Homo sapiens: one gene and its partner. The protein of the gene in region 1 purifies or fractionates together with the protein of each later gene. This does not show direct contact. Each region holds a gene or a part of one and is shown in the gene's direction. Other genes may lie near its edges.

Region 1 (6,392 bases):
TAATATTGTGTGCTGCAAGAAAGTGCTTGTTGATTGAACTGCCGATGGATTGGTTTCTGTGTGGTATAAATTGTGGCCCATTTATGAAGTCCCCAAAAGAGTTATGTTTTTAAGTGCCTTGGCAGGCTCACTTCTGAGGTGCAAAACATAGATATAGAACTGAACAGGGCTTGAAACAATATTAGGATTACTACCCAGGGCACTTACTGGTGCATGTTGTAACATATCTATGATAAAAGCCATAGTTTACCTAAAATGGTGATTTCCAGCCTTTACTGCTTTGAAGAAACAGAATTTGTAAAGGTATGCATGTAGAACATAAAAAATATTTCTTAATTATTTTTTATATTGATGGTAATATATTACGTTCAACAATGCTTAAAGCTCTACAAGCAGGTCTTTTCCCACCTCTTGATATCTGTGATACTGAAACTTGAGGATGTTGAAATGTATTACATTTTGGCTTCTTTCTACATGTTAACTGCACTGTAGATGTAAAAATTCAGGTTATATATAGGATTGCCATCTTCAGAGGTGATGCTGAACTGTGAGGTTTCCTAGTAATTGCCAAATGAGCCGTAAGTCTGCAGAATTCCCTTCTACTTTGAAGAGAAGGGGATAGGAATGTATATTTGGCTGGGGGCATGGAGATGTTCGTATGTATGAGGAGTTAGGGATGGGGAGTCAAGTTCTAGAAAGTTTTGTCTGAAAACCTTTGAATAGAATGGCATGAAGATTTTAATCAATTACTTATAAACAAAGTCTTAGAGACTTCCTTTTAGGAATCAACTTCCATGAGAAGTTAAAAATAAATTATTAATTTTAGGTACAGACATTAAACATGGAATTTAAGGACTGTTGGGGGAAATTGATCACTTCTTAGCATTTCCATTCAGTGAATGGAGCTGATGTTTGCCTGTCATTTTAAGATGATACCATACCTTCTTTGGTTATTATAGGTCCAGTTTGAAGCATTCTGACTTCTGGTTTTTCCACCCTGAAAGGAAATGTTTTTCTTTGCAGCAGTATTAGATAATGAAAAATGCTAATTCAGTAGTTATTAACTTCTAAATTTTATTCGCCATGACTTTCTAGTGAATTATTACCATAAATAACAATTTCAGAAACTTAGTTTTTAGAATAAATATTAATTTTTCCACTTCAGTTTTATTCTAGAAAATACCCTTTTTAGAAATCCAGTTTTAGTTTTGTCATTTTCGATAAATCTTTCTTCAGTTAGAAATATATATCCTTCCTTCAGTTGAAACATATACCTTTTTCACATCTAGGAAGAAATGCTTGCTCTGAAATAGTATAGATTAAAAACACTCAGTAGAAAAGAATCTAAAATTAAATGAATTTGTTTTGCCATTAAAGTAGAGCAGTGATACAATTTAATGCCATTACAATTATGTTGACTAGAAACTGCCTTTTTCTCCACTTCATTTCTAGCAATTATTTACCAAGTACCAACAGTAGAAGTAACAGGAAAGCCTGGCAGAGTTAAATATCTTGGACATTTATTGGTAAAGCTTATTTATAAACTGCAGTCAGAGCTAGTTAATTTCCTTAAATCTTTTTGTATTCAGATAGATAATATGAATCATTATGGGTTGATTCAGAAATAAAATTTGTGAGGTGATTTTGAATCTTGTCCATATAGGAAAATGAAGCACAGAATTACTCAGTCTTCCATATTGTATTTGACTTCATATCAATCTAGTAAAAAAGGAGTTGCAATAGCCAAGTATAGAGAGAATAGTGAAAAATTAATCTTGCCCTTTCAAGCCTTATACAGTAGTACACTGTACTTGTTTTTAGTAGTAAGACCTACTTTCCCACTATATGTAGATAGTTTGTTTTCACTGTGCCAGAATCTCAGGTGCCTGCTTAGAGTATTTCTTTAATCACAGTCACTGGGAAGTAAGGAGATGTATATATGTGTATATATGGTAACAAAGCATAGCAGTTCTCTAGGGGAGAGGCCTGGCATTGCACATGGTGTTACATGGCTACAAGTAAGGAAAAAATCAGAAAGTGAAAGAACTGATGTAATAAAAGGTTGATTTGGTTGGTTCCCATGAAAGTTAGTAAGATGCCCTTTTAAATATAAGGATCAGTGCTTTGTTCTGCAGCAGAGTTTGCTGATAAATGTCTGTTGGATTCTTTTTGGATTTCTTTAATTAATTTGTAAGTAACCAAGATAATTATTTTCCCCCTTGCTCTCTATATTAATACGTAGCTATAAAGCAACAGTTGGTTTTCTTATCCTTTGATAAAAGCATCCCATAAAATATAAAGTAGTAAGTTAACATAGTATTATTGTCACACACAATGCTTTTTTTGGTTAAATGTTGATACGAAGCAATGTTTTGGAATTACTTTAATTGATGGAGTAGTGGTGGTAGAGAGAAATTAATAACAAAAAGAGTGAAAATATTTTAATTAGCAGTAGATGGTGCTACTGGCTTTCATTTGCTGACTTGATTATTCCCTTTCTCTTAAAAACCATGGCATTAGACTGCACTAAATTAACAAGCATGTTAGTTGCTGGTAGAGGTTTTGGAGGTTAATTTACCTTAAATTGGAAGACTTTTAATTGCAGTCTCTTTCTACCTTCCCTCTGTTAGTCATTTGTAAATTCTAAATGGTCACCATAAAATGTATTAGGTAGGAGAAGATACGTTTTATGTATAATATATCTCAGACTGAGTTACTGCCTGTCTTATCAGGATGGATAAAACACTACAGTCTCTTATCAGGAAATAGAGATGATGTGGATATTTATATATTACATATATAACCACCAGACTCCATTTTATATATTAGCATTTTCCTTGCTTATGGGAAAATAGCAAAACAACATTTCATTTATACTTTTGTTTACCCCTCTCTGAGACAGGTTTTGATAACCACTGAAATGGTAGAATATGTGAGATACAAATATTGAGTTGTAGAACTTTCTTTTTAAGGTGAATAAGTCATGCCTTAACATCCAAATAAGAGTTCATCTTCAGAGTGGTTCTTTTGGGAGCACTGTTTATTCCAGCTATACTGCAAAAGTATAATGTTTTTGGAACTGTTCTAGAGCATACCATGAAAAGCAGTTTGTTATTATGCAGGAAAATCAGTTTCATCATTTTAGTTACACTAAACACTTTTGGCAGCTTAATATGACCTTTTTAAATTTTTTTTATTTTTTTTATTTTTATTTCTTTAAGATGGAGTCTTGCTCTGTTGCCCGGGCTGGAGTACAATGGCATGATCTCAGCTCACTGCAACCTCCACCTCCTGGGTTCAAGCATTTCTCCTGCCTCAGCCTCCCAAGTAGCTGGGATTACAGGCAGCACCACACCTGGCTAATTTTCATATTTTTAGTAGAGATGGGGTTTCAACATATTGGCCAGGCTGGTCTCAAACTCCTGACCTCAAGTGATCCGCCCTCCCCAGCCTCCCAAAGTGCTGGGATTACAGGTGTGAGCCACCACAGCCAGCCAGTATGACCTATCTTAATCATCAGCTCAACTGTAATTTAAATTTGGCTGTTCTCTGGAGCTAAACCATTAGGGAAGTTCAAAGGAATGTGCCATGATTTCCGAATTTGCACAAGAGAATGTTTTAAGCATTGGTAGCATAATTGAATAAAAGAATAGTTTCCTGATGTCACTATTTTGAAGTGGAAATTATCACTTGGATGTGGAGGTTTTACTTTTTAAAAACATTCAGCTTAATTACCTTACCTTAATTACCTTAGTTAGATATACTAATGGAAAAAAACCAAGTCCTTTCTCTAGAACTTGTTTTCTATTTTTGTTCCTTTTCATGAAAACTTCTCAATTTAATTTTAACTACTGTAGGATAGTATTGATTGAATGGATACTATGGAAAAGTGGATCCAATATTTAAGATAGAAGTAGTTTAAGGAGACAACAGCCTTTACTGCCATTTTTTTTTAAATGTTTTCACTCAGATGAACAATTTGACTTTAATAAAAGACTGGAGATTTTTGTACAAAGAAATAGGAATAAGTTTCATATACTAATTATGCTGAGTTTTAAGCCTACATATCACAAAATATTTAGAATTGTATAACCTTTTCATATATTTATAACTTTTAATGTCTTTTTAAAAGATGTGGGACCAAAAATATATTTATAATTTGGAAATGTGACTGCATACCAATAAGAAAACTTACCTTATTTTGAAATTTATCTGGGATATTAAAGAATCTACCAATTCTTAAAAACACAGATTTATACTTTAAGCTTATTTTAAAATTAAAGAATATATACCAATTCTTAGAAACACTTTAAGGACTACTCTTAAATAACTTAAATATCAGAGTTTTGTTGTAATATTAAAATTTACCGTGGAAATCACTGTTGTTCAGCTATCACCTTAATTGTGTATGATATGATAAATGTTTAGCAGTAAAGCTATCTTAAGATTTAATGGAAAAGTTTAATTTGAAGATGTAACAAAAATTCTGACCACAGTTGATTCTGAATTTTTAAGGCTTTCCTAATAGGCTGATCACAGAGAATAATCCATTTTGAAGGTATAAAACTGCACTGTATGTCTGTCACTTGTAGCTGAACTGATTCACATTTTGACAAAAGAGAGAAAATACAAAAATGAGTTTTGCAAATGTAATAACTTTTTCTGCATATAGAACTAAATAATTGAAAAATATGGGCTATAGTTCTCAAAGGTAGATAGTAAAATCACTGGCTTTTTCCAGCTGTATGTTTTTCCACTGTGCGTGTACACACACACTGGAAAATAATTAGGCTGATTTTGCAGGTCTTCATTGTTAGAGATTCTGAAGTATTTACTGTCAATTCATAGGTTTCAGTTTATTTAGGAAATTAGTGTTTGACAGCTTTTTTTAAATTATTTCACTGAAGCTGAGATTATTAGTGATACAAAGTTAAAATTTCAATATTTAATTTCTCTATATATTATTAATATTAAATTGTTTTTTACTTATAAATTCATGTTCTCATCTGATTTAATATTAAATTTGTATAGGTGGGCGTTTCTTACCATTTTGCACAAGTTTTTGTTTTTCTGAAATACTTAATTGTGCAGGTTGTAAAAAAGATTAGTGCATTTTCATTTTAAGGATGCTTTGCTCCTTAAATTGTTCGACAGAAATGACTTTTTAGGGAAAGTAGTTTTTTTGGAGCTACTAACTTGTATTTATTATTGTACATGCATAACCAGGGTGGTGAGGGCACTAATCTTGTAGGAAACACTTACTTGATGTTTTATTTGAACTTTTCCTATAGGTTTAACTTTTACTGCATAGAATTAACACTAGGAACAGTGTCATGAAATCTGGGTTGAAGGAGAATACAGTATATATGAGAACACTTAAAGTTCAAATAGAAATCATTTCTGAAGACAAAAGCAGAGGAATATTGTCAGTGCCAAGTAATGGAAGAATAAGGGCGGCATTTACACTGTGCAAGTATTGAGAAGAGTGCATAAAGACAGGGAACTACTCTCATGGAGACAGTTTCTCTCTTATAATCAAGTAACTAGAAGGGGAAAAATCATCTAAGTTATGAAATCCAACATAGGCGCTATATTACAAACTGTGCCGGATTATGCAAATTGTAGTTGTTACTGATCAAAGTTTAATTGCTTCATTTTTGTTTAAAAAGGGATACTGATGTCAGAAAATCTGTAATATGTTTTATTCAAAAGATGTAAATAATGTATACAGACTTGTATGTGATGGGATGGGAAATATTTAAATTCTAGGTGTTTTTTTTTTTTTAAAGAAGAAACTCAATGTTTATAAGAAAAAAATGAATAAATAGTTACGTTTGGCCATGAATCCTGACTTTGCATTACTGTTTATTTTTGCTATAGGCATTCCCACACTAAACACATTCCAAGGGAAATATTGATGGCATATGGAATATGTTGAACATTTAAAATTTGTTAGGCACTATTTTCTGTAATGTTCACAACAACCAGTGTCTTAACATCTTAGAAAACTAAAGCTCAGAAATTGTACAAGTCACTGATTTGGATTACGGTTTTAAAACCCTACTGTGTCTGAACTTGAAACCAGTGTTTCTGTTTTACTTTTTTCACTTTTTTCTTTATTCTGCAGTATGCAGGTGTATGTTTTCTATAATATATACTATTACAGTGAGAACAGTTAGCACAGTAATAATCATTTGTTGACCTCTTCACCAAGCTATTATTTAATATTTTGTCTTCATTACAGATCATTAAGGAATATTAATAATATTGGAGAATCATTTACCAAGTTCCAAAAGGAAATGTGTATTTTATTTTATTTTATTTATGAGACGGAGTCTTGCTCTGTTGCCCAGGCTGGAGTGCAATGGCACGACCTCAGCTCACTGCAACTT
Region 2 (7,092 bases), on another chromosome or scaffold:
GGCCAGAACTTCCAACACTATGTTGAATAGGAGTGGTGACAGAGGGCATCCCTGTCTTGTGCCAGTTTTCAAAGGGAATGCTTCCAGTTTTTGCCCATTCATTATAATATTGGCTGTGGGTTTGTCATAGATAGCTCTTATTATTTTGAGATACGTCCCATCAATACCTAATTTATTGAGAGTTTTTAGCATGAAGGGTTGTTGAATTTTGTCAAAGTTCTTTTCTGCATCTATTGCGATAATCATGTGGTTTTTGTCTTTGGTTCTGTTTATATGCTGGATTACATTTATTGATTTGCGTATATTGAACCAGCCTTGCATCCCAGGGATGAAGCCCACTTGATCATGGTGGATAAGCTTTTTGATGTGCTGCTGGATTCAGTTTGCCAGTATTTTATTGAGGATTTTTGCATCAATGTTCATCAAGGATATTGGTCTGAAATTCTCTTTTTTGGTTGTGTCTCTGCTCGGCTTTGGTATCAGGATGATGCTGGCCTCATCAAATGAGTTAGGGAGGATTCCCTCTTTTTCTATTGATTGGAATAATTTCAGAAGGAATGGTACCAGTTCCTCCTTGTACCTCTGGTAGAATTCAGCTGTGAATCCATCTGGTCCTGGACTCTTTTTGGTTGGTAAGCTATTGATTATTGCCACAATTTCAGATCCTGTTATTGGTCTATTCAGAGATTCAACTTCTTCCTGGTTTAGTCTTGGGAGGGTGTATGTGTAGAGGAATTTATCCATTTCTTCTAGATTTTCTAGTTTATTTGCGTAGAGGTGTTTGTAGTATTCTCTGGTGGTAGTTCGTTTTTCTGTGGGATCAGTGGTGATGTCCCCTTTATCATTTTTTATTGTGTCTATTTGATTCTTCTCTCTTTTTTTCTTTATTAGTCTTGCTAGCGGTTTATCAATTTTGTTGATCCTTTCAAAAAACCAGCTCCTGGATTCATTAATTTTTTGAAGGGTTAAAAAAAACCCTTTTTTTAGAGATGGAGTCTGACTGTGTTGCCCAGGCTGGACTGGAACTCCTGAGCTCTAGACTTCCATTTCACAAATAACTGGGATTACAAGCATTCACTACCTCACTAATATTATGTCATTTTTGTTTTAAGGGTTTTATTTTTAGCTTCATTGCTTTTCTCTGAACTCAGAATTGGTAATATATAATAATTTTTAAATTAATTTTCTTTGTTTTAGGATGTTTTCCAATTTTTAACAGCCTTATTGAGTTATTAACATACAATATAGGGCATATAAATAAAGTGTACAATTTGATCAATTTTGACATATGCATACACCATGAAATCATCACCACAGTCAAAATAATGAACATATCTACTGCCCCCCAAAATTTCCTCATGTGTCTTTGCAATCCTTCTTTCTCCAGCAACCACTAATCTGCTTTCTGTCATTGCAGATTAGTTTGCACTTTCTAGAGTTTTATATAAATGGAATGATACAATATGTATTATATTTTTCTATCTTCTTTCACTCAGCATAATTATTTTATGACTCGTCAGTGTTGTTGCATGTATGAATAGACCATTGCTGTTCATTTCTGGATAGTATTTTATTGTATGGATATACCACAGTTTGTTAATCCCTTGACCTGCTGATGGACATTTGGGTTGTTTCCAGTTTTAGCGGCTGCTACAAATAAAGCTGCTATGAACATTTGTATACAAGTCTTTGTATGGATTTATACATTCTTTAATTTTTAGTAAATACCTAGCAGTGGAATAACTGGAACATATGGAAGTGCATACTTAACATTTTAAGAAACTACATAACTCTTCCAAAGTGGTTGTACTGTTTTACATTCCTGTCAGCAGTATGTGAGAGTTCCAGTTCCTCCACATCCTCACTAACATTCAGTATGATCAATCTTCTAAAAATTTTAGTCATTGTGATATGTATGTACTGACTTGCCAGTGCAGTTTTAATTTGCATTTTCCTAAAGACTAATGATGCCGATCATCTTTTCAAGGCTTATTTGCCACCTGTATATCTTCTTTTTGAAGTACTTTGAAGTATACTTTCTTTTTTGAAGTACATATTCTAATCTGAGGTATATTTTGTATTGGGTTGTTTATTTTCCTATGATTGAATTTCAGATTTCTTTACAAGTTATGGATAAAGACATTTACCAGATTTATAAATATTGCATCCAAATCTTTGGCTTGTCCTTTCATTGTCCTTAGAGTGTCTTTCAAGGAGCAGGATCTTCACTTATTGAAGTACAATTTATTTTTTAAAATGGGCTGTGCTTTTTGTGTCAAACCTAGGAAATCTTCGTATAATCCAAGGCCACAAAGATTTCTTTCCTATGTTTACTTCTGGAAATTTTATAATCTTAGGTTTTGTGTTCATGTCTATGATCAATTTTGAGTTAGTTTTTGTATGTGGTTAAAAAGTATGGATTGAAGTTCTCTTTTTTTAAGCCTGAGATTGGGCATATACATTGATTTTTTTAAGAAAATATTTTTATTGAGATATAATTACAATGCCATAGCATTCACTGATTTAAAGTGTACAATTAAATGGTTTTTAGCATAATCACAGAGTTCAGCAACAGTTAACAACAATCTGTTTAAAATATTTTCGTCACCCCAGAAACACAGCCCTTGCCCATTCGCAGTCCTTCCTCTGTTCTTTCTATGGATTTGCCTACTCTAGACATGACATATAATGAAATCATACAATATGTGGTCTTTAGTGTCTGGCTTCTTTGACTTAGTATAATTTTTCCAAGGTTCATCCATTTGTAGCCTAAATCAGTACTTCATTTCTTTTTATGGCTGAATAGTGTTCTGTTCTAAATACATACCACATGTTGTTTATCCATTCATCAGTTGATAGACATTTGGATTGTTATCACTCATTGTTTATTATGAATAATGTTGCTTTGAACATCCGTGAATAAGTTTTTCTTTGAACACTTGTTTTCAGTTCTCTTGGTTATACCTAGCAGTGAAATTGTTAGGTTATATGGTAACTCTATGTTTATATTTTTTAAGAAACTGACAAAATATGTTGCAAAGTGGCTGCACTATTTTTACATTTCCACCAGCAATATATGAGGGTTCTAATTTCTTCACATCATCACCAACAATGGCTACTACTGTCTACCTTTTTGGTTGTAGCTATTTTAGTGTGTATGTGATGTGATATCTTATTGCGGTTTTGATTTGCGTTTCCCTAGTAGTTAATGATGTTGAGCATCTTTTCTTGTGCTTATTGATTTGTATATGTTCTTTGGAGTAATGTCTATTGAAACCCTGTGTTCATTTCTGAGTTAGATTATTTATCTTTTTTTTTTGAGTTGTAGTTCCTTATGTATTCTGGATACAAATTGCCTAAGAGATACATGATTTGCAAATATTTTCTCCCATTCTGCAGGTTGTCTTTTCACTTTCTTGATGGTATCATTTACAGCACAAAAGTTACTAATTTGATGAAGTGTAGTTTATCCCATTTTTTCTTCTGCTGCTTATGATTTTGATATCATATCTAAGAAAACATTGTGTAATTCAGGGTCACAAAGATTTACACCTGTGTTTTCTTCTAAAAGTTTTATAGTTTTAGGGCTTACCTTTTTGTCTGTGATCCATTTTGAGATCAGTTTTGTGCATGGTATGAGGTACGGATCCAAATTCATTCTTTCACATGTGGATATCCAATTTTCCCAGCACCATTTGTTGATAAGACTCTTCTTTTCCCCATTGAATTGTCTGTCTTAGCACCTTTGTCAAAAATCAGGTGACCATAAATATAAGGCTTTATTTCTGGATTCTCAGTTTTTTTTACCACTAAATTCCTTATTCCAGTATCACACTGTCTTGCTTACTGTAATTTTGTGATGCATTTTGAAATCAAGAAGTGTGAGTCTTCCACATTTGTTCTGTATCAAGGTTGTTTTGGCTATACTGAGTCCCTTGCATTTCCATATCAATTTTAGGATTGATTAGCTTGTCAATTTCTGCAAAAAAGCCACTTGGGATTTTGCTGGGATTACCGAATCTAAAATGATTTGGGGAATATTGTCATCTTCACAATGTTTATTCCTGTGATCCATTAACATGAGACATCTTTCCATTTATTTATATCTTTTAATTTTTATTCCAACAGTGTTTTGTAGTTTTCAGTGTATGAGTCTTTCATTAGATTTGTTAAATTAAATGCTTAGTATTTTATTCTCTTTGGTACTATTATAAATATAATTATTTCTTTAATTCCACTGTCAATTTTTTATTGCTACTTCATAGAAATAGAAGTGATTTTCTTTTATTGATCTTGTATTCTGCAACCTTGCAGAACTCATTTATTAGTTCTATAATAGTTTTTTTGTGTGTGTTTCTGTGCCTTAGGAGTTTCTCTTTACAGAATCATTTAATTATTCTTTCAAAGAATTCATCCATTTCATCTAACTTGTCAAACTATTATTATGAAGTTATTTATAATGTCTCCTTATTATCATTTTGGTATTTGTAGAATATCTTGTGGTGTCACTTCCCTTATTTATGATATTGGTAATTTGTGTATTCTCTCTTTCCTTCCTGATTAGCCTAGCTTGAGGTTTATGAATTTTTAAAAATCTTCTAAATGAACTAACTTTGGGTTGCATTGATTTTTTTTATCTATTGTTTTTTGTTTTTTTACTTTATTGTTTTCCTCTCTCATTCTCATTATTTGCACCATTCTTTTGCCATTGGTTTAATTTGCTCTTCTTTTTTTAGTTTCTAGGGTGGAAGCTGAAGTCATTGATTTGAAGCCTTCCTTCTTTTCTAGCATACACTTCAGTGGTTATTTGAATAAATAAGCAAAATATTAAGAGGGCAACAAATATAGCAGTGAAGATGGAGATGAGGCAATAATTTTGAGAACTCTTTATGGGATACCATCATTAGTATTTGGAGAATGGGTTATGGGAGTAAGGAAGAAAGAGGAAGACTATTATATTTCACAGGTTTGTCAATGGAGATTGAATAGTGTATTACTAAGACATGGATCGCAGAAGGGCAAATTAATTTGGTAAAGTAGTTCTGTTGTGGACACATTGATTTTGATATGTCTGTTAGATGTCCATTTGGCTGTGTCCAGTTGATATTGTATTTGGAGATCAATAGAGAGATCTTGGGAGGAAATAAAAACTTGGAAGCCATCGGTATGGAAGGGGTAGTTAAAACTAGAAATAGATGAGAATACCAAAAGAGAGGGTATAGTGTAAAAGAGAAGAGAGTGAAGACAGAACCCTTGGAAACATTTGGAATGTTGGAAGAGGATCGGTGAGGGCTAATTAATGAAAGCTACTGCACAATTGCTGTCAGAAAAGTTGAAGTAGAAAAGAATGGTGTCACACAAGACAGGGGAGGAGTAAGGTTCCCAGAAAGGCATTAATCAAAGGCATAATATGACTGAGCAGTCAACTAGACATGTGCAACATTTGACATTTAAGATGGCATTGGTGATTTTTACTAAAATAGTTTTAGTGGGCATATGCTTTAGGGTTAGATGTAAGATAGCAGTGGTTGAGTAGTGAGTGGGAAATCCAAAAGTGGTGACCAACTCTTTTATAAACATTTTCTTTGTAGAGAAAGAGGTACAAGTGTGGAATGACAGCATTTCAAACAAGGCCGACTTCTATAATCTTTTTTCTTAGTATAAATTAAGAATCTAAAAACATTTTAGATTACAATATTTATAAGAGAAAACTTAGAATTATGTAGTTTTCTTGACATTTTATAGAAATCATGTTTTTAAAATCAAATTCTGACTTAATTTTATTACACTTCTAAAAAATGAATGTTCAAATATCTCTTTTTTTTCTCCAGGAAAGACTTTGTTTGCCTCATCATATTTTGGAAGAACGAGGACTTGTGAAAGTTGGTGTCACAGTTCAGGCGCTCCTTGAATTACCAACAACCAAGGCATCTCAGCTTTCTGTGGCTTAATATAACATTTTAAAATTCTAAGTGTATAGTTTCATTTATTTGAAGTGATTTCAAATATTTCAAATTCATGAATAAGAATATTCCGTCAAAAATAGTTTGCCTTAGGTCACGCCTTAGGATTTTAAAAAAATTACATTGAAACATCAAACTTAAACATTGAATTGCCCGAACTTCTTTGGGGGAAAACTGGATTAACTTAATAAGAGTATTTGATAAACTCAAATTCTCTTTTTACTAAGTCAGTTGATAATCTTGATTATTTTTCAGAAAGCAGACTGATACTAAATTTAAAATGTAGTTTCAATTTAATAATCACATTAGGTTTAATTTTTTTACATCATAGCATATTAGTAAACATCTGGATAAAGGTAATTTTTTTTAGCAATTTAGAGCAATTCTATATTTGAGTTATTTAATACACTTCTAATTCTAGTTTATACACAATTTCTTCAATCTTTGGTCTTAGTTTTCTAGAAAAAAGGAGTAGAAAAAACAATTCTGGCTTTATATTAAATTCTTTTAGTATTATAGGTTGGTGCCAAAATATTTTCAGTTGTACTGTAGATTGTTTACATGTGAAGTGCCTGTGTAATTGATGACTCTTACATAGTCTTAAGCATTTTTGCAATTTTTTAAATGTATTAATAGAGTCAATGGAACTTTAAAATATTTTAGTAGATTTTGTAAAGTCAGTAATATGTGAGGATTTAAATGAGCCTCACATTGTGACATTTGTGGTTTTTTAGTTAGTCCATTGCAGTTTCCCTTAAATTGGTTATTTCATGTTGTCAAAAATACCAATGTTAATATGATTAATTTATGCTATTTAATTTTGTGAAACTTAATCATCTTTTAAAATGTATTATTTGAAGAGTATTTTATTTCTGTATTGAAAATGTTACACAAAGCAGTAAAGTTTTTGAGAACTAGTGAAGTACTAATTATCAAGGACATTTTGATAAAACTGCCAAAGTTTGGGTTTATATCTTCCCTTTGAGCAGCATTCTATCAGTGCTGCCTTTAGCTATACTCAGAGAGCAGCAGTTGAGGAATAGGTTTTTACTCAAAATCTGGCCATTTGTGAATCCTGTAAACCTTGTGATCTTCAATTACTTTGATGTTAAATTAAACACAGACTCTT

The links.
Region 2: the proteins of MOB1B (region 1) and LRCH2 purify together in Homo sapiens (affinity purification with mass spectrometry; 3 studies listed by BioGRID and IntAct, with this or other methods). This does not show direct contact.

What each region holds. Positions count from the first base shown.
Region 1 is NC_000004.12:70,982,324-70,988,715, forward strand, and holds the end of MOB1B (MOB kinase activator 1B), read left to right. Parts: 3' UTR 1-5,845; downstream 5,846-6,392. UniProt on the Homo sapiens protein: Activator of LATS1/2 in the Hippo signaling pathway which plays a pivotal role in organ size control and tumor suppression by restricting proliferation and promoting apoptosis.
Region 2 is NC_000023.11:115,112,075-115,119,166, reverse strand, and holds part of LRCH2 (leucine-rich repeat and calponin homology domain-containing protein 2), read left to right. Parts: intron 1-5,831; coding exon 5,832-5,951; 3' UTR 5,952-7,092. UniProt on the Homo sapiens protein: May play a role in the organization of the cytoskeleton.